Homo sapiens: one gene and its partners. The protein of the gene in region 1 interacts with the protein of each later gene in a biochemical or structural test. Each region holds a gene or a part of one and is shown in the gene's direction. Other genes may lie near its edges. The genes, in order: DNM1, CLINT1, PACSIN3 and DYRK1A.

What was found.
Region 2: the proteins of DNM1 (region 1) and CLINT1 form a complex in vitro, tested with the Homo sapiens proteins (one study listed by BioGRID).
Region 3: the proteins of DNM1 (region 1) and PACSIN3 form a complex in vitro, tested with the Homo sapiens proteins (one study listed by BioGRID).
Region 4: the proteins of DNM1 (region 1) and DYRK1A form a complex in vitro, tested with the Homo sapiens proteins (one study listed by BioGRID).

What each region holds. Positions count from the first base shown.
Region 1 is NC_000009.12:128,248,379-128,255,378, forward strand, and holds the end of DNM1 (dynamin-1), read left to right. Parts: intron 1-204; coding exon 205-375; intron 376-1,736; coding exon 1,737-1,978; intron 1,979-2,346; coding exon 2,347-2,562; intron 2,563-4,722; coding exon of another isoform or gene 4,723-4,744; exon of another isoform or gene 4,745-4,759; intron 4,760-5,630; coding exon of another isoform or gene 5,631-5,700; exon of another isoform or gene 5,701-6,275; coding exon 6,276-6,336; 3' UTR 6,337-6,866; downstream 6,867-7,000. UniProt on the Homo sapiens protein: Catalyzes the hydrolysis of GTP and utilizes this energy to mediate vesicle scission and participates in many forms of endocytosis, such as clathrin-mediated endocytosis or synaptic vesicle endocytosis as well as rapid endocytosis (RE).
Region 2 is NC_000005.10:157,849,117-157,856,151, reverse strand, and holds part of CLINT1 (clathrin interactor 1), read left to right. Parts: intron 1-7,035. UniProt on the Homo sapiens protein: Binds to membranes enriched in phosphatidylinositol 4,5-bisphosphate (PtdIns(4,5)P2). May have a role in transport via clathrin-coated vesicles from the trans-Golgi network to endosomes. Stimulates clathrin assembly.
Region 3 is NC_000011.10:47,177,022-47,183,469, reverse strand, and holds the end of PACSIN3 (protein kinase C and casein kinase substrate in neurons protein 3), read left to right. Parts: intron 1-400; 5' UTR 401-466; intron 467-660; exon of another isoform or gene 661-667; coding exon of another isoform or gene 668-742; coding exon 743-796; intron 797-910; coding exon 911-1,067; intron 1,068-2,779; coding exon 2,780-3,015; intron 3,016-3,128; coding exon 3,129-3,284; intron 3,285-3,732; exon of another isoform or gene 3,733-3,859; intron 3,860-3,883; coding exon 3,884-4,059; intron 4,060-4,190; coding exon 4,191-4,311; intron 4,312-4,439; coding exon 4,440-4,576; intron 4,577-4,982; coding exon 4,983-5,104; intron 5,105-5,423; coding exon 5,424-5,539; 3' UTR 5,540-5,948; downstream 5,949-6,448.
Region 4 is NC_000021.9:37,488,746-37,495,780, forward strand, and holds part of DYRK1A (dual specificity tyrosine-phosphorylation-regulated kinase 1A), read left to right. Parts: intron 1-806; exon of another isoform or gene 807-879; intron 880-1,201; exon of another isoform or gene 1,202-1,300; intron 1,301-1,429; coding exon 1,430-1,716; intron 1,717-4,271; coding exon 4,272-4,418; intron 4,419-7,035. UniProt on the Homo sapiens protein: Dual-specificity kinase which possesses both serine/threonine and tyrosine kinase activities. Exhibits a substrate preference for proline at position P+1 and arginine at position P-3.

The sequences.
Region 1 (7,000 bases):
GAGTCAGAACCAAGACAAGGCTGAATCAGGGGAGTCTAGGGTCCTGAGAGGCACAGGGATGCGGAGCCAGGTATGTATTCAGGCCAGTCGCTTCTCTCTGTGCCTCAATATTCTGGGTACCCTTGGAGGGGCTGAGATCCTGGGGATGCCTGGAGCCTGGCTGCATGGCCTGGCCACCTGATGCCCTTGTGTTCTCCATGGCAGGCCAGCGAGACCGAGGAGAATGGCTCCGACAGCTTCATGCATTCCATGGACCCACAGCTGGAACGGCAAGTGGAGACCATCCGGAATCTTGTGGACTCATACATGGCCATTGTCAACAAGACCGTGAGGGACCTCATGCCCAAGACCATCATGCACCTCATGATTAACAATGTGCGTGCTCCACTGCATGGGGGCAGGGAAATCCTGTGGCACTGGGGATGCAGGTGGCCATGTTGGCCTGGGGGAGATGCCAACCAGCCCTATGGGACCAGGTCCAGGGAGGGAGGCACGGTCCAGACCAGAGCTGTCCAATAGAAATATCATGAGGGGCTGGGCGCGGTGGCTCACACCTGTAATCCCAGCACTTTGGGAGGCCAAGGCAGGTGGATCACGTGAGGTCAGGAGTTTAAGACCAGCCTGGCCAACATGGTGAAACCCCATCTCTACTAAAAATAGAACAATTAGCCAGGTGTGGTAGCGTGAGCCTGTAATTGCAGCTACTCGGGAGGCTGAGGCAGGAGAATCACTTGAACCCAGGAGGCGGAGGTTGCAGTGAACCGAGATCCTGCCACTGCACTCCAGCCTGGCCGACAGAGCGAGACTCCATCTCAAAAAAAAAAAAAAAGAAGAAGAAATATAATGAGGGGCTGTGCACGGTGGCTCATGCCTGTAATCCCAGCACTTTGGGAGGACAAGGCAGGAGGATCACTTGAGCCCAGGAGTTCAAGACCAGCTTGGGCAACACAGTGAGACTTTGTCTCTACACAAAAATTTTAAAGAATAGCGGGGGTTGGCCGGGCGCGGTAGTTCATGCCTGTAATCCCAGCACTTTGGGAGGCCGAGGTGCGCAGATCACCTGAAGTTGGGATTTTGAGACCAGCCTGACCAACATGGAGAAACCCCATCTCTATTAAAAATACAAAATTAGCCGGGCGTGGTGGCACATGCCTGTAATCCCAGCTACTCAGGAGGCTGAGGCAGGAGAATTGCTTGAACCCGGGAGGCGGAGGTTGCGGTGAGCTGAGATTGTGCCATTACACTCCAGCGTGGGTAACAAGAGTGAAACTCCGTCTCAAAAAAAAAAAAAAGAATAGCTGGGGTTGGTGGTAGCACGTGCCTGTAGTCCTAGCTACTGGAGAGGCTGACATTGGAAGATAACTTTGAGCCCAGGAGGTTGAGGCTACAGTGAGTGGTAATCTCCCCACTGTACTCCAGCCTGGTGAAAGAGCGAGACCCTATCTCCAGGAAGAAGAAAAAAAAAAACAACTGAGTAGACAAGAGTTCTGGTGGCATGATAGGTCCTAAGTCCCCTCCCGGTTCTGTGACCTTGGTCAGATGACTTTTCCTGTGGACCTCAGTGTCCTCATCTGAGTGAGAAAAGCGCGGTGGGGAGGTGAATCTTCCAGTCTACGCAGTGTAGGAGCCGCGTCTGAAAAGCCACACCAGCTCACAGTCCCAGCAGGGCCCGGTGGGGCGGCCAGGGCGGCACAGGCATCAGGTCCCCACCTCCTTCCCTCTTTGCCTACTCGCAGACCAAGGAGTTCATCTTCTCGGAGCTGCTGGCCAACCTGTACTCGTGTGGGGACCAGAACACGCTGATGGAGGAGTCGGCGGAGCAGGCACAGCGGCGCGACGAGATGCTGCGCATGTACCACGCACTGAAGGAGGCGCTCAGCATCATCGGCGACATCAACACGACCACCGTCAGCACGCCCATGCCCCCGCCCGTGGACGACTCCTGGCTGCAGGTGCAGAGCGTACCGGCCGGACGCAGGTACCAGGGCCGGCCCCCACGGCCCCAAAGCCCCCCAGCCCGGGGCCCGCGGGAGGAATGCCGGGACCGGGCAGTGGCGCGCCCGCGTCACCGGGGTGGCTCCCACCTGGAGCGAGGGGCGGAGCTTAGAGAGGGCGGGGCTTGTCGCGGGGCGGGGCTTGCCGTGGAGAGCTGGCTGCAAGGCTGGGTGGAGCTGGGGCGTTGGCGCCGCTGGGGGCGGGGCTTAAGCTCCGGCGACCGCCTTAGGGGTGCGGCAGGGAGGGGCTTGCGTGCATGGGCGTGGCCAGCACTGGGCTGGGGCGGGGCCTCTGGGTGGGCGGAGCTGCTCATCTCGCCTCTCCTTGTTCCTCGCTCCCTGTCGCCCTCAGGTCGCCCACGTCCAGCCCCACGCCGCAGCGCCGAGCCCCCGCCGTGCCCCCAGCCCGGCCCGGGTCGCGGGGCCCTGCTCCTGGGCCTCCGCCTGCTGGGTCCGCCCTGGGGGGGGCGCCCCCCGTGCCCTCCAGGCCGGGGGCTTCCCCTGACCCTTTCGGCCCTCCCCCTCAGGTGCCCTCGCGCCCCAACCGCGCCCCGCCCGGGGTCCCCAGGTGAGTAGGGGCTGAATGCGGCTGGAGAGGCTGCCGGACGGGCGTGGCCGGGAGGGAAATGGGGCTGGATTCCAGAGCATCGGACCTGGCCGCCAGAACCGGCCGTTTCTATCCCAGGCAATCGGACTCTGGGTGCCGGAGCCACGCCACGTGTGGCCGAGGGCTGGCGGAGCCTGCCCCCGAGGGAGCGCTGAGTCCCGGAGGTGGTCGTTTCTGGGGAGGGGGCTGTGGGGCTCGTCCCACCTGCCCCCTTCTTTCCAGCACTTGCATGGCGCTTCCCTCTATTTTCACTCTTGGCGGCCGCCCACACGTTGCATTCCTCCTCCTTTCTTCTTCTTGCTGTCCTCCATCCTCCATTCCGTCCAATTCCTCTCCCAGCCCCTGGGGAGCCTACCTTAGGTCTGACTCTGAACCCCGATCTGCTCTGAGTGTGTGGATTTCCTTCAGCTACCCTGATGTCCCCACTTCCCAGCCCTGACTCCTTTGAGCCATCCCAGGGGGTGTCCAGCCACTGGCCCACAGGAGCAGAGGCCAGGCTGTGACTGTGTGACTAGAAAGGTGTGTGATGTGTGTGTGGGCGTGCACACGAGTGTGAGAGTGTAAGCATGGCACCCAGGCCCGGGCTAGGACAGGAGCAGCTGGGGAAGCAGCCTGGGCCGTGGGCAAACTGATGGCTTTTTTCCTCCCCCCAACCACCCCCTCCGCGACTTCTGGCCCTACCCAGTCTAAACCAATGTGGTAGGGGTGGCGGCAGGGGCAGGGATGGGAGTGCTTGAAGCCTGCTTCATTCCCAAAGATTTCTAGGGAAAAGCTTTCTACTACATCCTTTGGCTTGACCTTCTTGACCCATGACTCTCTTTCAAGGAAGTTCACTCCAATTCCCAGTCTGCCCTGTTTCCACTGGCCACATTCTCTAAGGAAGAACACAGCAGAACAATAGCATCTGTTTTGTTTCTGCATGGCTGGAGGGTAGGGCTGTCGGTCTAGCACCCATAAACCAAAATGAGGCAGGGATTGGGGCTTGCCCTATGATGCTCTGATGACCAAAGCAGATGCGTAGAGGCAAGCAGCATGGTATTGGGCAAGAGGACTGGACTGGGAGTCCAGAGATGCTGCTTCACCCTGGGCCTTTAGACACGTCTCTTTCCCTCCCAGAGCCTCAGCATCCCTTCTATCAAATGATGACATTCTGCCTTTTTCCCAGGGCGGTTGTGGGGATCGAGGGAGACAGTGGCTATAGGGATGCTGTGTTAACTGCAGATGCAGCCGTAGGAGCACTTTGCTAACTGCCAACGTGAGTTCAGATTCTTCAGGGTATTTGGCACCCAGGTCTATGGTGCGGTGTGAGATCTGTGATGTAAGGTTTGATGCCTGCCCCAACTCCAGTCTTGCTAACACACATGAAACATTTGGCAAATCATGACCCTACCTTGGGGAAAAGAGCAGTCTGGGAGAGCTTCTTCAAGGCAACCTGACTTCAGTGCAGTCTGAGGCATGGCTGAGATAGGCTTACGTGGCAAGGAATCAGGAGGGTATCTGGGCCAAGAGCTGCAGTGTGGGCAGAGGTGTAGTGTGGGCTGCAACGAGGACAGCCACTGGACAAAGCAGAGAACAGAGACAGAATGAGGAAGAGCTCTGTGGGCAGGGTGGGGCGCAAGGTGGAGAACCTTCAAAGTCTGAAAAGTTTGACTTGTTGGGGCTCAATGCTGTGGGCAGTAGGGAACCACAGAAGGCTCTTAGGTGGAGAAATGACAGCTGGACTTTAGCGAGCAAGCCCTATCTCCATGAGCAGCACGGGTGATCCTCTAAGCACACCAGGCACGAGTGTGCAGGGAGCTGGTGCAAATGCCTCTGTGTGCGGGTGAGCTTCTGTGTTGTGACTCTGCCCACACGTGTGCTTCAGTGTGCTGAGTGGCTGCATGCCCCAGATCCATGCTGCACGCGCCGCCGGCCAGTGAGGGTGCTGGGCACTGGGAGGTGGCGGGGAAGGAGGCGTATGCGTGTTGTTTGTGGGCATGTGTGTTAGCGTGTGCATGTGGGCCATGGGGCCTCACAGCATGTGTGTGCACGCCCGGGCGTGTGCGTGTGTGTGTCCCCCACCCCCAGGCCGGCCCCACCCGTGCGTGTGAACTGCCATGTTGATTTCGTGCTGTCTTTCAGAATCACTATCAGTGACCCCTGAGGAGCGTCAGCCATGGTAGGTACATGCCTCACCGCCTGCTGCATGAACGGTGTGTCTGCCCCGCTGCACTAGCTCCACACGGGGCGCGCACCTGGGACCTCAGAGCCAGGCTCCCCGCCCCTCCCTTCTGCAGCTGCAGACTTGCTCTTTCCTCTTTCTGTCCTTGTGCCGCTGGCTCTCTCACCTCCCTTCCCTGCGAGCCTCGGGACTCAGTGCCACTGCCCAAGGCCTCCATGGCTGAGCCTGGAGGCTCTTGGAACAGGCTCCGCGCCCAAGCTGGCAGACATGGGTGCTCTCTGGAGCCGTCAGAGAGGGCAGAGAGCTCGTGGTTTATGGTGTAAAGGCTGGGAGCTTGGAGGGGGTCGTGTGTGGGGCTGGACTCTGAGGCGGCCAGAGGCCTAGGAACGTTATCCTGGGCACACCGTGCGTGGTGTGCAGTCTGAGTCATGCTCCCTGGGTAGGGCATCCAGCTCCCAGCCTGGGAGTGCTGAGAGCCAAATCCACCGTAGAGCAGGGGTGAGAGTCAGGGTCCCACCTCCTCTATCTGCCGGCAATCCAGTGGTGACCTAGGGTAAAAGCTTGAGAGTCCCATACACACGGTCATCCCACGACATACCTCACAGGCCAGGCAGGGACACACAGCCCCCTTCCCTCCCTCCCAGGTACCGTCATAGCTGCTAGTGTGACTGAAGGCAGTGTCCCTGGCCCCAGCTGAAGCACCGTAGCCAGCCAGCGGGCTCACGCACCTTGGCCTGTTGCTCCTAGGGTCACTTGTGCCATTCAGCCAAGGGGACGACCGTGCCTGCTGGCCCAGCTGAGCTCCGCCCAGTGAGCCCACCCCCCATTCTCCTGCCACTGACTCTCGCTCTTCTGCTTTTCCCAGCAGGAAGGGCCCAGCCTCACCTACGAGACCTGCAGCCCCCCGACCAGCTGAGGCTCCCCTCTTAGACTTATAAGTCTATGGCCACTGGCATCCGGCTGCCTGCCCTCCCTGCCTCCCCCAGGGTCCCTTCAGAGGGTCCTGGGTTTTCTGAACACCCAGAGGGGCCTCCGGCGCTCCCTCCAGCCATCCCTTTTAGTTTCACCCTCCTGGTTCAAGCAGTGTTCTTTCTCTATCAGGCCTGGTGGCTGTTGCATGGGGCTCCCCAAGGCAAGGGGTGGCCCCAGGCCAGTGGGTTGGAAGACAGGGTGACCAGAGAAGAGGGAAGCCCGAGGGGGCCGAGCATCAGCCTGAATTGCGGGTGCCCTGCCTGGGTGCCGTGTGAGAGGCCAGCGTGTGTGGGGTGGGGAGGGCCGCCACAGCCCCCAGGCGCTATCTGTGAAGCTACGGCTCCTCCCTCCATCTTCCTCCCCTTTCCCTTCCAGCCCCTTTTCCAGGAACCTTGCCACACCCACACCTGCAGCCTCCCCTCCCCGGCCCTCCCACCACTGCTGCGGCGCGGCCGGCCCCGGCCGTGTGCTGCGCTTGCCTTACCAGCTCTCTCCTCGCTTTTCTCTCCCGTTTTCTCTCTGCTTTCTCTCCAACTGCCAGCCGATCGGGTCAGGCAAGTCCATCCCGTCCTGAGAGCCCCAGGCCCCCCTTCGACCTCTAAACAGATCCCTCCTCTTCTCGGAGACCTCCCTTTCCAAGCCTGCCTGGACGGCTGTTCTGTGACTTGACAGTGGCTCCCCCAGCCCCAAAGCCAGCCCCCTTCATCTGTGACTTAATCTGTTGTAGTGGTGAGCTGATACATTCAGGTGTGACCGTTGGTGAAAACTTGTGCCCCTTCTGTGGTATGCCCTTGCCCTGTTCTATAAATATCTATAAATACTCATATATATACACACCTACACATGGCCAACCGCCTCGCCTCTAGCGCTGGGAATCAGTCACTGTGCTATCCTTGTGGAGTCTTGTGGCCCAACTACCAGAGAACGCTGTCCCCCGACATCCCACTCCAAAGTGTGCCACCTCCAGTGAGCCTCCTTGTCATGCCCGGCCTGTGGACAGCCAGCCCCCGCCATCCCTCCCACCCCCTACCAAGCATGGGGGTGCTGTGCAGGCAGCCGTGTGGCCTGACAGTTTCTACCAGTCCTGCTGTCCCTCGGCTGAGAATAAAACCCATTTCTGGATGATGGGGAATGTCTCCTCTGCTGGTTGTGTTCTCTCTGGAGCTCAGGGGAGGGGAAGGGCTAAGCCATTACTAGGGTGCTGCTGGGGGTGGTGAAAAGACCACATCTTTTCCAAGGGACATTTTTCCTGGAAAGCCCCTGGAG
Region 2 (7,035 bases), on another chromosome or scaffold:
AAAAAGTGGTAATCAATAAATGTTATACTTAAATATTTTATGCAATAAATAAGACCATGACTCAGGAAGACTAGGACTTTTAGTGTATATTGATACCCAGTGAGGTTTTACTTCAGAAAAAGAAATGTACTCTGAAAAATGTGTTTCCTGGAGCCACTCTTAGATTCAGTATGGTAGCGGCTCTTAAGTGTAATGATGTATTTCTTTTTTTTTTTTGAGATGGGGTTTCGCTCTTGTTCCCGGGGCTGAAGTGCAGTGGCGAGATCTCAGCTCACTGCAGCTTACACTTCTGGGGTTCAAGCGAGTCTCCTGCCTCAGCCTCCCTAGTAGCTGGAATTACAGGTGCCTGCCACCACACCCAGCTAATCTGTGTATTTTTAGTAGACACGGGGTTTCGCCATGTTGGCCAGGCTGGTCTTGAACTCCTGACCTCAGGTGATCCACCCATCTCAGCTACTCAAAGTGATAATGATGTATTTCAAACACTGGCTTTTGAGACCTTGAAGACTTTTTCTGGAAGTGGGGGTATATTTTCCACAATCGCTGCACCTCCTGGTGGCAGTAGAGGGATTTGTTTTGCAGAACATTGTGGAACTGAGGGAAGCAGATAAAGCCATAGGCCTGCCAGAGCTTGGAATGCCAGTATCTTCCCACTCGTCAAGTTGCATAAAAGGCGATGTGGCAGGAAAGGATAAGTGGCACCATTCCCACCAACTAGGAGCACTAGCTTAATCATTGTCATCCTATGACCTATCTTTACTTGTGGCTGTAATAAAATTGGACATGTTTATATTTTGTCATCCTATACATGGTAAAATTGAAAGTTGCTGCAGTTCTATTTTCTCTCTAGATTTGAGGAATGTAATGAAGGTGACATGGTAGTGGTAGATCAAAACTGCTACTTATTTGTTCAAGCTCAGCGAATCCTTCTCTTTCCTTGCAAGGAGTAATATTAGTGGTAAATCTCTTTCATCAGTGACCCGCCCCCCCCCCCGCCTTTTTTTTTTTTCGGAGACAGTTCACTTTATCCCCCAGGCTGAAGTGCAATGGCGTGATTTCAGCCCACTGCAATCTCTACCTCCCGGGTTCAAATGATTCTCCTGCCTCAGCCTCCCGAGTAGCTGGGATTACAGGCGTCTACCTCCATGCCTGGCTAATTTTTGTATTTTTCATACAGCTGAGGTTTTGCTGTGTTGGCCAGGCTGGTCTCAAACTTGTGACCTCAGGTGATCCACCCACCTCGGCCTCCCAAAGTGCTGGGATTACAGGCATGAGCCACCTTGCCCAGCCTCAGTGGCCCTTTTTTTGATAGTGATTCAAACAGCTCTGGCTAAGGTCCTAAGGCAACAGCTATGGGTAGTCCATTTTAAGTTATTCTCCTAAGCATAGCTTGCATTTTCCCTCATAAGTTGATTTTTATTGATGTATATTTGCTTGGTTTTAGTTCCTAAATGTTTAGATAATGTAATAGAGCTGTAGAAACTGCTGTTCTAGTCTCCTGACTCCAGAGGGAGAAACTTTTGCTTTTATAAAGAATAGTATATTCATTTATTTTAACAGGCAATACATTTGTTATTTATTGGATTAGTAGTCTGGTTTCTTTTTATTTTTTATTTTTGAGACAGGGTCACACTCAGTTGTCCAGGCTGGAGCACAGTGATGCAAACATGCACACTGCAGCTGGGACCACAGCTGCGCCTCCATGCGTGGCTAATTTTAAAAAATTTTTTTGTGGAGAAGGGTTCTTGCTATGTTGCCCAGGCTAGTCTTGAACTCCTGGGCTCAGGCAGTCTGCCTGCCTCAGCATCCTGAAGCGCAGGGATTACAGGCGGGAGCCATTGCGCCTGGTCTAGTACTCTATTTTCTGAACTCGAAACATACAATACCTGCCTTCAAGAACCTTGCCACTACAAATATGCTACAACTTGAATGGATTATTTTTCTTTTCTTTTCTTTCAGTCTTCAGATATCATCCCCTTTATTTTCTTTATCTTACCAGTAAATCTCTGTTCAGTTTGCTTCTTGGAATTTGAAAGCAGAGATAGTAAGATAGTTGTCAGCTTTCTAGTCTTCCCATGTCAACTTTTCTTTGAACCGATTATAAGTAATTGTTATTGCTGAAACAATGAATTAATTATTCTCCTCCTTTTCTAGTAACTGGACACAAGTAGATATTAGGAATTTAATTCCAAAGAAAGATGAGTTTGGTTTATCTCTGCTAGCATTTCTTAGGGGTAATTTTCTGTAGTTTAATCTATTTAGTACTACTGTCAGGGTGCTTTTAAAAAGCACTTAACTGCCTCTTATGTTTTCTTGCACACTTTAGTATTAGTTTACAAGCAGTTTTTCTTTTTTTTTTTTTTTTTTTTTTTTTGAGATGGTGTCTCGCTCTCGTTGCCCAGGCTGGAGTGCAATGGTGCGATATTGGCTCACTGCAACCTCTGCCTCCTGGGTTCAAGCAATTCTCTTGCTTCAGCCTCCTGAGTAGCTGGGATTACAGGCACGTGCCACCATGCCCGGCTAATTTTTGTAATTTTAGTAGAGACGAGATTTCGTCATGTTGGCCAGGCTGGTCTTGAACTCTTGACCTCAGGTGATCCACCTGCCTCAGACTCCCAAAGTGCTGGGATTACAGGCGTGAGCCTCCGTGCCCGGCCTACAAAGCAGTTTTTCATCTGTTTACTGATATGTCCATTGAAAGTACTTAGCCTTTTTTATTTTGAGTGCCATTTGCTAGTAATCCAAGGTTTCACAATATGGCTCTACAGTTGAGTCTTTTTCTGGACTTTTTTTTTTTTCTTTCTTTCTTGAGATGGAGTCTTGCTCTGTCTCCCAGGCTGGAGTGCCATGGTGTGATCTCAACTCACTGCGACTGGCCTCTGCCTCCCAGGTTCCAGCGAGTCTCCTGCCTTAGCCACCCAAGTAGCTGGGATTACAGGCATGTGCCACCATGCCCAGCTAATTTTTGTAGAGACGGGGTTTCATCACTTTGGCCAGGCTGGTCTCGAACTCCTGACTTCATGTGATCTGCCTGCCTTAGCCTCCCAAAGGGCTGGGATTACAGGCATGAGCCATTGCCTCTGGCCTTTTGTATGCTTATATTATTTTCCTACTTGTTTCCAATGTTTGTTTTAATGAAGATCACTTCACAGATTCAAAGTACATTTTTAGTACTTTTGAAGGTTCTTATATACAGTTAACTTTTTAGTCTCAGCTACCTTTGGTGACAACATATTTTACTGTTTACTCTTCTGTGTTTTTCAGGTTAACGCTTCATGTGAGCTTTCCTTGTTTAGCTTAATTATGTGTGTTTGTCCATCTATGTATTTTTATAATAATTTGCTAGCCAAATATACTTTGCCACTATACTTAGGTGCCTCCAGATGGTGTTTAATAAATGTGGGAATAGCTAGTGGTTCAGAGGTGAGAACTGGATTGAAATCTTAGGTCTGCTACTAGAAACGGTGATCTTATGTGTTAGAATGGTATCTTTATTTCTCTGTAAAATAGAGATGATATTTTATAGGATTATGAGGATTAAATGTGAAACAGTATAGTACTTGACATACAGTAAACTCTTGAAACATCTATTACTGTTATTACTGTTACACACAAAACAGTATAACACTAGAAAAATCAAAGGAATACAGTGTTTGTGAAAATAGAGATATCATTGTCAGACTAGGTTATTTGTAAGTATGTAGGAACTATATCTTCATCCATGAAATCATTATTTTCAGTGAGTACTCTCTCTTAAGACTCAGTTTAGCCTACATATAGGACAGCTAATTTAAATACCTCTGTTGTTTATGCCTTGTATTATTTTTGCTAAATCATAAATGGCTTCTACTTTAATATTGCAAAGCATATTGCAGAAATACCCTTTCAAAAGACATGTTGAGGAATAAAGTCTTTGGAAAGACATATCGCGAATTCCATCTGCCAATTCTTAATATTTTGTTCAGCTTGTTTTGTGTATTCTCAAGATTTTAAAGTAACTGCTAATGTAAAACATTACTAAAACATAAAAAGATTTATTTCATAAATGCAAATTGAAGCAGACAATTTATTCTTAAGAGACTGAACAATATCAAGAAAAAGAATCCTCTAAAATATGTGATACCAAATTCATGGTGTTTGACAATGGACAAACAGTATATACAAGGAAAGCACATTGGAGAAAGGGCTTTCTGGTTATTCAACCCCTCAAATTGGCAAGAAATTATTTGGCTTACCAGGGCTCTTTTGCCTGAAAATTAAATACAGGTAAAGGAACGTAATATATTCCTATGTTTGAGCCAATTTATAGCTACTTATTACTTGTGGATAGATTTAGCTAACGAATTATTAAATGTGAGTGATTTTGTTAATGTGCAACAGTGCACATGAATGGTTTGTACTTCATTTAAGAAGAGTCTAGTTAGCCAATTTTAGAATATTTCATTTCTTTTTTTTTTTTTTTTTTGAGACGGGGTCTTGCTCTGTCACTCAGGCTGGAGTGTAATGGTGCCATCTCTGCTTCAGCCTCCTAGGTTTAAGCGATCCTCCCAAGTAGCTTAAGCGATCCTCCCAAGTAGCTGGGACGACAGACACATGTCACAACACCCAGCTAATTTTTGTATTTTGGTAGAAATGGAGTTTTGCCGCATTTCCCAGGCTGGTCTCGAACTCCTGAGCTCAAGCAATCTACCCACCGTGGCCTCCCAAAATGCTGGAATTGCAGGTGTGAGCCACTGTGCCTGGCCTAGAATATTTGTTTTGACATGAATTTTATTTAGCTTCTCAATTCTTAGGACAGTATTTAAGTTCTAGATAACTTTAATATAAATAATCTTTTATAATTTTGCACACACTCATCATTATGTGGTAAACGTACATGCGTGCTTTTTCAACAACTATTGAATGAAATGTTTCATTCAAGAATTCTCATTCAAATAGCTTATATTTTTATAGTAGAAAAAAGGCATGCATTGAAAATTCAATTTTCGGGTTTTTTGTTTGTTTGTTTGTTTGCCATTTGTTTTCATGCATTTTTAGTAAATCATTAAAGAACAGTGCAAGGCCAGGTGCCGTGGCTCACAACTGTAATCCCAACACTTTGGGAGGCCGAGAAGGGAAGATCTCTTGAGCCCAGTAGTCCAAGACTAGCCTGGGCAACACAGACCTTGTCTCTACAAAAAAATTAAAAAATTAGCCGGACATGGTGATGCATGCCTATAGTCCCAGCTACATGGGAGGCTGAAATGGGAGGATCACTTGAACCCAGGAGTTGAAAGCTGCAGTGAGCTGTGATTGTGCCACTGCACTCTAGCCTGGGCAACAGAGTGAAACTTTGTCTCTAAAAAAATTTTTTTTAATATTAAAAAAAAGAACAATGCTAATAGGCATACTGAGCCTTTTTCTATTAATTTTTCTCATACTAATTTTTCATTTATCACTTTTTAAAGTGACTTAGGTTATACGGTTGAAACTACATGTCTTAATTTGTAGTTAAACCCCCATGGTTAAATAATTTTTTTTTTTTTTTTTTTTTTTTTTTGAGACAGGGTCTCACTTGTACCCAGGCTGGAGCGCAGTGGCATGCACGATCTTGACTCACTGCAGCCTTGACCTCCTGGGCTCAATCCATCCTCCCACCTTAGTCCCCCAAGTAAGAGGGACTACAGGTGCTTACCACCATGCCCGGCTAATTTTTTGTAGAGATAGGGTTTCATCATGCTCCCCAGGCTGGGCTCAAACTCTTGAGCTCAGGCAATCCGCCCGCCTCAAGCCTCCCAAAGTGCTAGGATTATAGGCGTGAGCCACTGTGCCCAGCCAGTAATATCCTTAGTTTGATGTATTTGGCTTATAAGTTCGGTACTGAATGGGGCTTTGAAGGATGGCCTGTTTCTCACTAAGCATGTAAAATGTTTAGCCCTGTCATCTGCTGTCCACTCAGCAGCGAGAGGGATTCTTTAAAAATACTAAGTCAAATGGGTTCAGAATTCTCCAGTGGCTTCTCATCTCATTGCTTAATTGCCTGTACAGATCTGGCTCTTTGTTGCCCCGCCTGTGATCTCTTCTCCCACCACTGTCCCTCACTTTCTCTGTTCTGTTCAGTGGACCTCCTGTATTACATAGTATGCACTCACACTCGTCACTATTTTTTTCTGTGCTTGCCTTCCTCTGTTACATGTATTCATCTCCTGCCTCTGATATGCAAGTTCCTTGAGGGCAGGAACTTTGTTTTGTTTACTGCTGTATTACTAACTCTTAGAACAATTATGACACATAGTAGGCGCTCAAATATTTTTGAATGAATACATTAAATTTGGTAAGTTGATATTTATTACAGAGGATATCCTTTAAATCCAGATATTTCTAATAATAAAAGCTAATAGTTATTGAGCATTTGCCATGTGCCAAGAACAAAGGTGACAACATTGTTATGTTCAATTTTCTTATGAGGAAATTGGGCACAGAATGCCAAGAGTGTGCCACAGATAGCACATCTAGAAGATAGTCTAGATTTAAATCTAGATGATATACTTTCAGAATATGTATTTAGCAGTTTATGCTAATCTTTTACAAGACATCATGTAAACAAAAAAATTGTTATACAGGCATACCTCAGAGATATTACAGGTTTAGTTCCAAACCACTGCAATAAAGTGAATATTGGAATAAAGCAAGTCATACAAATTTTTAGTTTCCCAGTTCATATAAAAGTTATGTTTCCACTATGTGGTAGTCTATTAAATGCACAATGGTATTATGTTTAAAAAAGTACATACCTTAATTTAAAAATATCTTATTGCTAAAAAGTACAGCCATCTGAGCTTTCAGCAGGTATTTATCATTCTGCTGGTGGAAAATCTTGCCTCCATGTTGATGGCTGCTGACTTATCAGGGTTGTGGGATTGCTGAAGTTTGGGGTGGCTGTGGCAATTTCTTAAAATAACAATGAAGTTTTCTGCATCATAGATTCTTCCTTTCACAGATGATTTCTCTGTAGCATGCAATGCTGCTCGATAGCATTTTACCTAAAGTAGAACT
Region 3 (6,448 bases), on another chromosome or scaffold:
GGAGACAGTTACATACACTTGTTCGGGCTTCCTGGCCAACACAGAAGCCAGGCCTCTTGGTTCCCTTCGTGCCCTCCTCAGTACAGGGAGCTACTGGGATGTGGCCAGGCACCCTCTGACTTGGCCTCTCGGGTAACAGGGTTGTCTTGTCACTCAAGGGAAGGCAACAGAGGCCCTAGCCTGGGCAGGAGTCCTCTCATCGGCAGTTGGGGGAGTGGGGCCTTCTGCCCACCGCCCACCCCCGCCTGCCATTTAATCCCTGGCTGGATCGTGTGACCTGCCTGGCATTCTCCTCCCTGGAATCCGGCGCTTCTGACAGCAGTTGCTATATTGGGGGTGCCGGGCACCGCCCTGGACGCTCTAGGCCCCCACCCTCACCCCCGCTCTGTTCTCCTTCAAGGCAGAGTCACGGTGGCAGCATTGAGAGTTGGACACCCGGGTCCTTGAAGTGATCTCTAGGCCCCAGGTATGTGGGGGGGCGGGGGGGGAAGTGCAGAGCAGTGAGAGGAAGAGCTTTGAGACTCCATCCTCACCCATCCTGGCCCTTCTTAGGGTCTTCAGCACCCTGCCTGCTAAGTCCTAGCTCTGATGACTCCTTGGGTGGTGGGGATGGCAGTGGGGCGAGGCCCAGGTATAGAGAGGGTCTTTTCCTATCCCCAGAAACATAATGTCCAGCTTTCCTGCTTACCCCTCTGCCCTCCACAGCCCCAAATCCGCCACCATTCCGTGCTGCGGGGACACCATGGCTCCAGAAGAGGACGCTGGAGGGGAGGCCTTAGGGGGCAGTTTCTGGGAGGTGAGCAGCTGGGTCCTGGGCTCAGCTACTTGTCTAGGGGAGGAGCCCATCTGACAGCCCCAGCCCCAAAGGAAGCTTCTCCCTGGTGATGGCACCCTTTTCCTGTATGCCCAGGCTGGCAACTACAGGCGCACGGTACAGCGGGTGGAGGACGGGCACCGGCTGTGCGGGGACCTGGTCAGCTGCTTCCAGGAGCGCGCCCGCATCGAGAAGGCTTATGCCCAGCAGTTGGCTGACTGGGCCCGAAAGTGGAGGGGGACCGTGGAGAAGGGTGAGCCAGGCCCTCGCAGGGGGCAGAGGGCAGCTGAGTGCAGGACTGTCGGGCCAGCTTCTTTTTGCACGTCTCGTGGGAAGTTTGAGGCCTCCACGTCTACCCTCCCTTAGAAAGGGAAGATCCTCCTGGTCATCCTCATGGCTGTGGTGTTATTAAAGTTTATAAAGGATGCTCATGAGTTACTTTGATAGTTGCAACAACCCTGTGGAGATGGTTGTTTTACCCATTTTCTTTCCTTTCTTTTTTTTTTTTTTTTGAGACGTTTTGCACTTGTTGCCCATGCTGGAGTGCAGTGACATGATGTTGGCTCACTGCAACCTCCGCCTCTCAAGTGGTTCTCCTGCTTCAGCCTCCCAAGTAGCTGGGATTACAGGCACCCACCACCACGCCTGGCTAATTTTGTATTTTTAGTAAAGACGGGGTTTTACCATGTTGGCCAGGCTGGTCTCAAACTCCTGACCTCAGGTAATCCACCCACCTCAGCCTCCCCAAGTGCTGGGATTACAGGCGTGAGCCACTGCATCTGGCCTTCTTTCCTTTGTTTATTATTTATTTATTTTGAGACAGGGTCTCACTCTGTCACCAGGCTGGAGTGCAGTGGTACAATCATGGATCACTGCAACCTCTCCCTCTCCCACGCTCAACTGATCCTCCCACCTCAGCCTCCTGAATAGCTGGGACCACAATAGCTGGGATCACAGGCATGGACCACCACACTTGGCTAATTTTTGTATTTTTTGTAGAGATAGGGTTTTGCTATGTTGCTCAGACTGGTTTTGAACCCCTGGGCTCTAGCGGTCCTTTCTCCTTGGCCTCCCAAAGTGCTGAGATTACAGGCGTGAGCCACCGTGCCCGGCCTGGATTACAGGCATGAGCCACCGCACCTGGGCCTGTTTTATGCATTTTCTAGAGGAGAAACTGGAAGCTCAGAGAGGCTAAGGGACTTGCCTAAAGGCACACAGCTAGGAAGTGCTGAAGGTTGAGCCCAGGCCCTCTGACTGGGAGCATGGATCTTTCCACCCTGCAAGCTGTCTTCCTCGAGGGCACACACAGGCTCTTCCTTTGAGGCAATGGAGTGTAGTGTTTACACAACAGAGATGGGTTTGAATCTCAGCTCCTCTTTTTTTTCTTTTTTTTTGAGATAGAGTCTCGCTCTGTCACCTAGGCTGGAGTACAGCGGCGTGATCTCAGCTCACTGCAGTCTCCCCCTCTCGGGTTCAAGTGATTTTCCTGTCTCAGCCTCCCAAGTAGCTGGGACTACAGGCGCCCGCCACCATGCCCGGCTAATTTTTTGTAGTTTTAGTAGAGACAGGGTTTCACCGTGTTAGCCAGGATGGTCTCGATCTCCTGACCTTGTGATCCACCCGCCTTGGCCTCCCAAAGTGCTGGGATTACAGGAGTGAGCCACTGTGCCCGGCCCTCAGCTCCTGTTGTAGCCATAATGCTTTGGGCGAGTTCACATCTCTGGTCCTCAGTGTTTTGCCTGTTCAATGTTGGCAATGTCGCTGTCCTCACGATGGTGGCTGAGACAAGGAGTCAGTGAGATAAGGCACATGGTCCTCATTCAATAAGCCCAGCTGACAGGGTTGTCATTCACCTTTGCACCCCATGCGCGTACCCCATGCCTCCATGCCTCACACCCAGTGAGAGGGGCTAGGCTCATTTTGGGTGGTACCCAGGCCTGGCCTAAGCCCTGTCCCTCCCTGCAGGCCCCCAGTATGGCACACTGGAGAAGGCCTGGCATGCCTTTTTCACGGCGGCTGAGCGGCTGAGCGCGCTGCACCTGGAGGTGCGGGAGAAGCTGCAAGGGCAGGACAGTGAGCGGGTGCGCGCCTGGCAGCGGGGGGCTTTCCACCGGCCTGTGCTGGGCGGCTTCCGCGAGAGCCGGGCGGCCGAGGACGGCTTCCGCAAGGCCCAGAAGCCCTGGCTGAAGAGGCTGAAGGAGGTGAGGCTGGGTGGGGGAGGTATCCGAGACAGGCTCCTTCCTGTTTGTTTGCAAGGGATCGAGGGGGCCAAGGTGTGGCATCCAGGGTCCAGAGTGGTCTCCATGCATGCCAGGTTGAGGCTTCCAAGAAAAGCTACCACGCAGCCCGGAAGGATGAGAAGACCGCCCAGACGAGGGAGAGCCACGCAAAGGCAGACAGCGCCGTCTCCCAGGAGCAGCTGCGCAAACTGCAGGAACGGGTGGAACGCTGTGCCAAGGAGGCCGAGAAGGTACAGGCCACAGGTCCCAGCCCTGGCCCCCGCCCAGGGCACGGCTTCCTGAATGAATCTTGCTCCCTGAACATCTTGTCCAGTCCCCAGCACCCTTATTACCCTATTCCTCACCTGCCACCCTCTCTCCAGATGATCATTTAAAGGAGGAACCTGACAAAAGGTGATGCTTTACTAGGGAAAGAAATGGAGTTTCAGGCACTGGGATGACTTCAGCAGTTGAGAACTTCCAGCTCTTTTCCTTGCACAGTACCCTTTGCCCGAAGTGTCCTTTCCTGCAGCTCTGGATATGCAAATCCTCCCCATCCTGAGATGCTGCAGTTTCCACCTCCTCCAGGAAGCCTTTTCTGATTTCTCCCATCCTTTCCTGTAGGTTGACCTCATTTCAATCCTCACCAGACTCTTTTATATGCTGTGCCTGATGTCACCTCCCTTGTTAGGCTGCTGGGGTCCTTGAGGGCAGGAGCTGGGTCTTGGGACTGATTGCCCCTAGTGGCTAGCCCTGGGTCTAGCAGCCTATGGCAGTGTCTGGTAAACACTGGTGGAGTCCTGGGTGGAAGAAGGTCTGGTTCTCACCAGGCCCCTCCTCTCCCACCCAGACAAAAGCTCAGTATGAGCAGACGCTGGCAGAGCTGCATCGCTACACTCCACGCTACATGGAGGACATGGAACAGGCCTTTGAGACCTGCCAGGCCGCCGAGCGCCAGCGGCTTCTTTTCTTCAAGGATATGCTGCTCACCTTACACCAGCACCTGGACCTTTCCAGCAGTGAGAAGTATGAACTGCCTGGTGGGCATGGAGATCTGGGGTAGTACTGGGTCTCCTCCATCTCCCCGAGGCCCTGGCTGGGACTGAGGGATGCAGGGTCTAGACTTCCTAGACTGAGGGGTGTGCCTTGGGTCATAGGTTCCATGAACTCCACCGTGACTTGCACCAGGGCATTGAGGCAGCCAGTGACGAAGAGGATCTGCGCTGGTGGCGCAGCACCCACGGGCCAGGCATGGCCATGAACTGGCCACAGTTCGAGGCATGTGTTCCAGGCGGGGTGGGGATGGGAGGTGGGATGGGCTCCCACTCAGCTCGGCCAGGGCTAGGGATGAAGTAAGTGAAGGTGGTTCAGATGGCCCCACCTGACTATAAGCACTGTCCCCACAGGAGTGGTCCTTGGACACACAGAGGACAATCAGCCGGAAAGAGAAGGGTGGCCGGAGCCCTGATGAGGTTACCCTGACCAGCATTGTGCCTACAAGAGATGGCACCGCACCCCCACCCCAGTCCCCGGGGTCCCCAGGGTGAGAGCCAGGAGCGCGGCTGTGGCAAAGAAACAGCTCTGCCTCCCGCCCTCCTTTCCTTTCTCCTTGGTTTCATTTCTTTCACACCTGAAATGGGTTGAAAATTGGTGCCAGGGACCTGAGGGCCTACTTAGTAGTTGTAATGATACTGGTTCTCATAGTGGTTTAGATTTGCTGGGCATTTCCCACATTCCCTCTCGTTTATGCCTTAAATCAGCTGCGTGTGGCAGGAATTGCCTCTTTGCTCACAGTCGGGCATGGCGAGGTAGAGCTAGAATCTTTAGTACCTCACCTGACTCTCCCAGGTGCCTCTGGGGGTAGGGAGGCCTTTGCCCTGATCCTGGGTGAGATCTCCAGCCCCGTGTTCCTTGCACTCTGAGCTGCTCCCTTTGCCTCCCCTCTCCAGCACGGGGCAGGATGAGGAGTGGTCAGATGAAGAGAGTCCCCGGAAGGCTGCCACCGGGGTTCGGGTGAGGGCACTCTATGACTACGCTGGCCAGGAAGCTGATGAGCTGAGCTTCCGAGCAGGTACCCTGGGACCCCTTTCCTAGCTTCAGCCTCTGCCTTATCTGCCTGAGCAGGGGTGTCAGAAAGGGAAGCCAAATACCCACTTCTTAAGGGCCAGTCCTCTGTCCCTTCAGCTGTTCCAGGTCCAGATAGCTGGTGCCTGGTGGCTGCATTCAGGGTCTGGGGTGGGGCAGCTTGCTGACCTTGACCTGCCTCTGCCTGAGCCATGTCTTTGCTAGCTGGGCTCTGGGACCACACCATCCCCCTCAGTCCTTGACCCAGTTGCAGGAACAGGGCCTGGGCCAGGGCCACTGGCAGTGACCAATCCCCTTTCCCCCAGGGGAGGAGCTGCTGAAGATGAGTGAGGAGGACGAGCAGGGCTGGTGCCAAGGCCAGTTGCAGAGTGGCCGCATTGGCCTGTACCCTGCCAACTACGTGGAGTGTGTGGGCGCCTGAGTGTCCTGACAGCCCTTCTGCAACGTTTACCCACCCTGGTTCAGAGCCCAGCTTCTCCTGGAGAGCCGGACCCTCAGGGCCCTGAACCGTCGCTCTCTGGCTGCTCCTCTGTCCCTTGAGGGAGGAAGTCCTGGGACCCAGGGAGGGGAGGGGCCTTTGTCTAGGGAAGGGACTGGTAGGGAAGGGACGAGTCTAGGCTGAGGGCAAGATGGGAGGTCAGAGGTGACAGAAGCGTTCAGGGGTGCCTGGGCCTCCCCAGGAGCTGTGGACTCAGTTCCTGACCTCTGCTTTGGGGTTCCTGGGGTGGGCTTGGGGTGAGTGTAGTTCTGGCCTAGCAGCACCCTCTTGTGGCTTGTTCTAGCGTGTATTAAAACTTGACACACACCCACACACAAAAACAAAAACACCACTGTCGGGCTCATGTGCATTTTTTTGATAGGACACCCTTGCCAGGCCACCAGAGGGCATCTAGAGAGAGGCCTAGCGTCTGTTATGGGGCCGGGGTTGGAAAAGGGTTTGCCTGCTTGGTACCTGCTCTGGAACTTCGAGATACTAATCTGGAGTGGAGGGGACTCGCTGTCAGGCTTGCTGTTAACCGAGAACGGCTGAAGGCTGGGCGAGACGCGGGCCAATGCGTCTGCCCGTTCGGGCCGGAGGGACGAGGAGTGTTTGGGCAGCCTAATCCTTATTCATCGATCTGTAATTAGCTGGAGTGGGGGTCCCCGCCCCCAGCCTCCCGCAGCCTGCGCGGCGTGGGGGCGACTCCACCTGGGGGTTGCGGCGTGGGAGGGGCGGGGGGAAGGGTACTACGCGCGCGAGGAGGTTTGGGCCGGTCCGCGCGCCGTCGCCCCGCCCCGGCTGCGGATTGGCCCGGCGCGGCGTTGATTCTTGCGGCCGCGGTTGTCGTCG
Region 4 (7,035 bases), on another chromosome or scaffold:
TTCTTAAAGGAATTTTTATAATCACATTAGAATTCTGACAGCAGTTACTTTTTGCATTCATTTAGTGGCACCTGCTTAACCAGGAGATTAAAAGCCATCCACAGACCATGATTGTGAGGTATCATGGAACTATGTTTTTAGTTTTAAACCTATAAACTGAAGTGACTAAGAGCAGATATTTTACATTCTTAGGTAACATTTAAGGATTCCTTTTGTTATTTTTAGTATCGAGTTGTGCTGTAGACTCCTATATAGCCATGTAGTTATTTTTATTGTGTTACTTATTCTAACTTTAGATCACCTATACCATGAAAGATCTAAAAGCAATATTGATGTTCACTGCTTTGAGGCAGGCAGCCCAGGACTATTCCCAGGAAAACACAATGTATCCACAGTTCTTAGTGATCAGACATTGATTACTATCAGTTTATTCCAGATAGATCTGTAGAGAAACCTCTCATTTTGTAATACTATAAGATAAAATGAAAATCACCTTGACAGATGGGTGTTTTATGTCATTGCAGTTGTGTTACAGGTGCTCAGTTTGGTATATATAAGACTTAACAGGGAGGGACAGCACTTTATCGAATAACCTCATCTGATGTGACGTCAGTGTTAATAGTTAAAGCACAATCTTTGAGGCAATTTAGTGAGTATTCAGCCTTTTTAGAGGGTCAACAGTGATAGCGACCTATGTATTCTATGCTGTTTCCCCACTCACAAGCCTCCTTATCATCTCTTCTTGTAGCTGAGCTTTATTTTGAAGTTTTCCAAACCTTCAGTCTCACACAAGAGTTGTCACTTACCAATTTGATAAACACAGTTAAGTCCTCCAATACTTTTACCAAAGCATGATTTTCAGACATTTGTTGTATTTGCCTAAAGGGTAAAAAAAAAAAAGGCTATCAATGAAAATTGTGACAGAAAATTACCAGTGAAATCTAAAGTTCAGCAGTGCAGATACATTTCAAAGCCTACACAGAGGGCTGCCAACTACAGCATTGTCACAAACCAGAGATCCCAGTAGGTGGAGCTTAGACATAGGAAGTTGTGAGGTAGGGCTCTCGGGAAGTAAAAAGTGCTTTCTTTTATAAATGAAGATAAAATTGCTGAAATATTCTCACTGCTGTTTGTCCATTTGGTCCTTATGTTTTCAGATCTGACTTTTAGAGAAACAAGGCATTTTGGTAGCACTGCTTACCTTATATCACTTACCGACATATGCTGTACCTGTTTAATTCAGCAGAAGAGCAACTTAGATATTCTTAACTGATTGAAAACTGCTGTTATTACAAAATGCTGATCTCCAAACTTTAACTGAACTCTGCATTTGATGTAATAATGTTATAGAACATTTGAGAGTGCATGTGTTTGTTACTCTCAGTTTATTGGTATATATAATTTAAAATGAAACTGTTTTCTCTTTCAGTGCATTTGAAACGCCACTTTATGTTTCGAAACCATCTCTGTTTAGTTTTTGAAATGCTGTCCTACAACCTCTATGACTTGCTGAGAAACACCAATTTCCGAGGGGTCTCTTTGAACCTAACACGAAAGTTTGCGCAACAGATGTGCACTGCACTGCTTTTCCTTGCGACTCCAGAACTTAGTATCATTCACTGTGATCTAAAACCTGAAAATATCCTTCTTTGTAACCCCAAACGCAGTGCAATCAAGATAGTTGACTTTGGCAGTTCTTGTCAGTTGGGGCAGAGGGTAAGTATTATTTCAGAACTTGTGAATTAAATAGAAATTAAATAGAAGTAGGTAGGACAGTGTAGGTATTAGGTTGGCGCAAAAGTAATTGCGGTTTTCGCCATTGCAGTTGCTGTTTTTGCAGTGGCAAAAACCGCAATTACTTTTGCGCCAACCTAATAGATATTTGAAATGTTAATAAGGTGTATACCATTTAGAGGCAATTACAGGATGCTTATTTATCTTTAAAATGTAGCACTTAATTACCTTGTGTTGATATCTATTTTGGGGAAATACCTTTTAAAATGCAAATAGCAATACTTTGAGTCAAAAGACATTGATTTTTTTGAAATGGGTATATTTAAAATTGTATGTATGCTAAAAGATTAAGGGAGAGAATAGGAGATGGAATGATTAAATATTAGGGGATTTGTAACTATATTTCCCAAGTAAAGGTTTTAGTATAAATTTTGGGACTTTCCAGTACTAGAACATTGAATCTTTGCTGTAAAATACTTCTCTGAAGATGGATCAAGATAAATCTTTTTTCTCAAAAACTGATGGTTCAAAAAAATGCAGGTAATTTTGCATTAGTCATGGTATAAGTATAGAAAATTCAGTTGATAGACTTACTTGTTTTGATAAATAAGTTTGTCTTATTTTCCCCACTCTTATTTAAAATTTACATAAATTCTGACACATATCCAAGCTGGTTTTTTTCAGACTGCTAAAAACAGATGTGTTCGTAGTGCTGATAAGTTTAGCTGATTTAGGAAAGCAGTTTTTTCCTGTCATTCTTCCAGCATTATGAAAACTACTCTAACAGCATTGTTTTATGTATAAAATAGAAGTGATAGGGGTCTCCTCTTGAAAGGAATTAGTGTCACCATTTGATAATATTTTACTCATTTTAAGCACTATTCTTTTTGCTTTAAGTATTGAAACTATATTTCTTCTGTTTTAAAGAAACCCGGCTAACATACAGATGTTAATTTTTCTTACTGACTTTTCTGTTTCTTATTTTTCCAAATTAGTGAAATTTTCTGTCCCGTCCTACTTTTGTCCAGGTTTTAACTATAACAGATTAATTTAATCATAAGGATTTATAGCCAATTAATAGGACTGTCTTTTTGTTATTTTCTGCAACTTCTCATGGTAGTGAGGCTATCAAATGTTAAAGTAATTTTTAAAAATTGGAGTAGGGAGCAAAGTTTGCAGTTTTAGATGCCTTCAAAAAATCAAGAGATGCTCGTAGTTAATATGTGGTAGAGTATATTGTGAATGAAAAATACATGCCCATCTTGACAGTAATTTGAATAGATTATAGAGTTGGGAAAATTTCCCCCTATTTAAGCCAAATTATGTATTTTGTCCTAATATTAAACATTATTATTTCTGTCTAGCCAAAATGAGCCAGTTATCCCTACAATAAGTTTTTAACTATTCAAGTTCATTGGCATCACATGGGAAGTTATTTCTAAAATAGACCTGCAGTGGTCCTGCCCCTAGATCTGTTGGATTAGAATCAGAAGGTGGTAGGGCAAGTGTGTTTTGGGGAAAGCAACTGCTTTAAACAAATTAGATAGGGAGGTGACAAAGTTCTTGGCATAAGCTGTGAAATAAAAGTCTCAGGAGTGGTGAGTGTTTGGGCCTAGGGAGTTAACAATGGTATTGGCTTATAAAAACCATGGAAATGTAATACTTCTTCCCAGTTCTTTTAAATTAGACTTTCTTCTCATAGTTCCTTAAGGTTGGTTGACCTACCTGTGGAGGCCTGAGATTGTTCTCGAAGACTTGGCTGGAGGTTTCAGTGGGAACCACAGAAAATTTCATGAGCTTTCTGGCTGCATGGTTTGGGTGTTAGGAAATTTAGTTAGGATTTTATTTCTTTTCCACTTTTAATAAGTGAAACAAATTGGTCTCTGAAGACATCCTAACATTACTTCATTGAAAATAGTCCATTTCAGGATTGTCTTTCTATAAGAAGTCTTGGATGGAGGTAGAGAGAGAAGATGAGAGAAGAAGCTATTGGTCAGAGACAGCTCTCAATTGAATCTTTATGTGGCAGTGTTTCTGGGATTTATCTGTGAGACAGCAAGAGTACAAATATCTGAATTTTAAATTATATTATATTGAAGTTACTTGACTTTTAACGCTGAGAAATACATTGTTTGGGTTAATTTAAATACTATTTAGTTGTAAAGTTAGTGGTAAACTAAGTGCCAGCCATAGTAGGAAGAAATAATTATTAGGGAAATACATTGCTTTCAATAGTGTTTTTTTTTTCCTAGTGAGGCATAATTGTTTTAAGAAATATCATGATGACTAGGTAGGATTAGACTAAATGAAAGGGCTTGAATCTTTACGTATTATGCATTTCACAGTCAGATTAACCAATCCCTCAAAATGTTTAGTTCTTTAAGCCGTATTCGTAGTCTAATGTTGAAGTTAATCAATGGAACCCTAATTCAGGAATTAGCCAATTCTTTTCTGTTAATATCAGATCAATGTTTTTAATCCAATGCTGACTGCAGTTTTAAGCAATTGAAGTAATACTATTTTGAAATATATTTCAGATATACCAGTATATTCAGAGTCGCTTTTATCGGTCTCCAGAGGTGCTACTGGGAATGCCTTATGACCTTGCCATTGATATGTGGTCCCTCGGGTGTATTTTGGTTGAAATGCACACTGGAGAACCTCTGTTCAGTGGTGCCAATGAGGTAAATGATGTATTGCTTTACAAATTCTGTTTTCATAATTTCTTTTTGTCTTTCATCTGTGACAGTGTAATTTAAAAGTTGTTTTTAGGCAAAGATGTCTACTTAATCATTCAAATGTGAGGTCAGTTTGAATATACCTATTTTTCATATTTGTCAGTTGTCATGTAAGTTTAGAATTATGAGATAGGAGTAGGATATTTTAATCTACTCATGAAGGAGAACAGTTAGAAAGTGTTAAGTATTTTGGCATACATTTTACAGGTTTTAAATACAATACAGAAAGCTTAAAGATGATAAAGAATGAAGGCCATCCTGAAGAGTGATACAAACATCACTCTAAATTTTGAGATTATGATTTGGAGTTGAAGAGTAATGATCAGTAGGACTGATGGATACTCAGTCTGAATAATGTAGAGTAAACGAGATTATAGACTTGTAGGGCTACAGAGACTGTGTGCAGTTCTGAAGTCTACAGGTTTTCAGTCTGTGTTCTGGAAGATTTTTCAAGGTCAGAGGCAGTGAATGGGAGGGCAGGGACAGGCCTTAACTTCCCTGCAGTCAGAGAAATTAGACTTTCATTGTTTTAAAAACTACACCTGTGGGGTTTTGTTTGTTTTTTAAAAGAAAAATTGACAATTTGCACGTCTTGATCAGTCTATTTATAAATGAGAAGAGAAAGGCCAAAGGCATTAATGACTTGTACCGGATTACACAGCTGTTAATAGGTGGTGTCAGAAACTTGTTTCTTCCATCCTTCCTTTTAATTCTTCTTTTTTTTTTTTTTTTTTTTTCCCGGAGATGGAGTCTTGCTCTGTCACTCAGGCTGGAGTATAGTGGGGCAATCTTGGCTCCCGAGTAGCTGGAATTACAGGCAAGCGCCACTATGCCTGGCTAATATTTGGATTTTTACTAGAGTTGATGTTTCACCATGTTGGCCAGGCTGCTCTCGAACTCCTGACCTCAAGTGGTCTGCCCGTCTCAGCCTCCCAAAGTGCTGAGATTACAGGCGTGAGCCACTGTGCCCAGCCCCTTTTAATTCATTTCAACTTGAACTGGTGAGCTACTCTTTTATAGTAACTGTCATAGTTTGTTTTTTTTTTTAGTATAAATCTTACTGTGTAAATTAGTATCTTTCTTGGGCTTAAACAATATTAAAAAAACTTTGCCATGTTACTCATTGTAAAGGCCGAGGTCCTTTGAGTAACCCACAGATTCCTACTTCCTCTGATGCCAGTTCTCTCACCACCACCTGGTCTCTCCTTCTCCCCTCACTCTGTGGTCCCTTGAAAACGCCAGCTACAGGCCCATAGCCCTTTGTATTTCTTCCTTCCTGTGCCTAAAATGCTCTTTTCTGAGATACTCCTTTGCTGATGTTAGTGTTTGCTCTGATGTCACATTCTCGGTGAAACCATATACCCCACTTACGGTTGCAGTACCCCTTCTCCTCATCCCATAGTTCTTAGCCAGCATCTGACATCATGTATTTAATTATTTATTGATAATGCCGGGCGCAGTGGCTCACACCTGTAGTCGCAGCACTTTGGGAGGCTGAAGCAGGCAGATCACTTGAGGTCAGGAGTTCGAGACTGGCCCTGCCAATATGGTGAAACCCCGTCTCTACTAAAAATAGAAAAATTAGCCTAGTGTGGTGTTGCGTGCCTGTAATCCCAGTTACTTGGGAGGCTGAGGCAGGAGAATGGCTTGAACCCAGGAGGCAGAGCTTGCAGTGAGCCGAGATCACGCCACTGCCCTCTAGCTTGGGAGACAGAACAAGACTCCATTAAAAAAAAAAAAAAATTGTGTGTTTGTGTGTATATGTATTTGCTGTCTTCCCACTATAACATAAACTTCTTTTTGGCAGGAATTTTTATGTTTTGTTTATTATTTTCTACCACTGAATATGGTTCCTAGCATATAATAGGCACACTCATTTAAAGTACTTAAAAAAGTACTTTATTAGGTCCATACTTTATTAAGCCTCTGGGATTTTGTGTGTGTGTGTGTGTGTGTGTGTGTGTGTGTGTGTGTGTGTGTGTGTGGTTATTTAACATGCTCTGAAAACTGGGTTGGGTGCCGTACCTCACGCCTGTAATCCCAGCACTTTGGGAGGTCAAGGTGGGAGGATTGCTTTATCCCAGGAGTTTGAGACTAGCATAGGCAACATGGTAAAACCCCATCTCCACAAAAACTTTTAAAAATTAGCTGGGCATGGGGCCGGGCACGGTGGCTCACACCTGTAATCCCAGCACTTTGGGAGGCCAAGGTGGACAGATCATTTGAGGTCAAGAGTTTAAGACCAGTCTGACCAACATGGTGAAACCCTGTCTCTACTGAAAAATATGCCTGTAGTCCCAGTTACTCAGGAGGCTGAGGCAGGAGAATTGCCTGAACCTGGGAGGTGGAGGTTGCAGTGAGCCGAGATTGCGCCACCGCACTTCAGCTTGGGTGACAGAGCGAGACTCCATCTAAAAAACAAATAGCCGGGCATGGTGGTACATGCCTGTAGTCCCAGCTACTCAGGAAGCTGAGGTGAGAGGATCACTTGAGCCTGGGAGGAGGTCAAGGCTGCAGTGAGCTCTGAGTGCACCACTGTACTCCAGCCTGGGTGACAGAGACC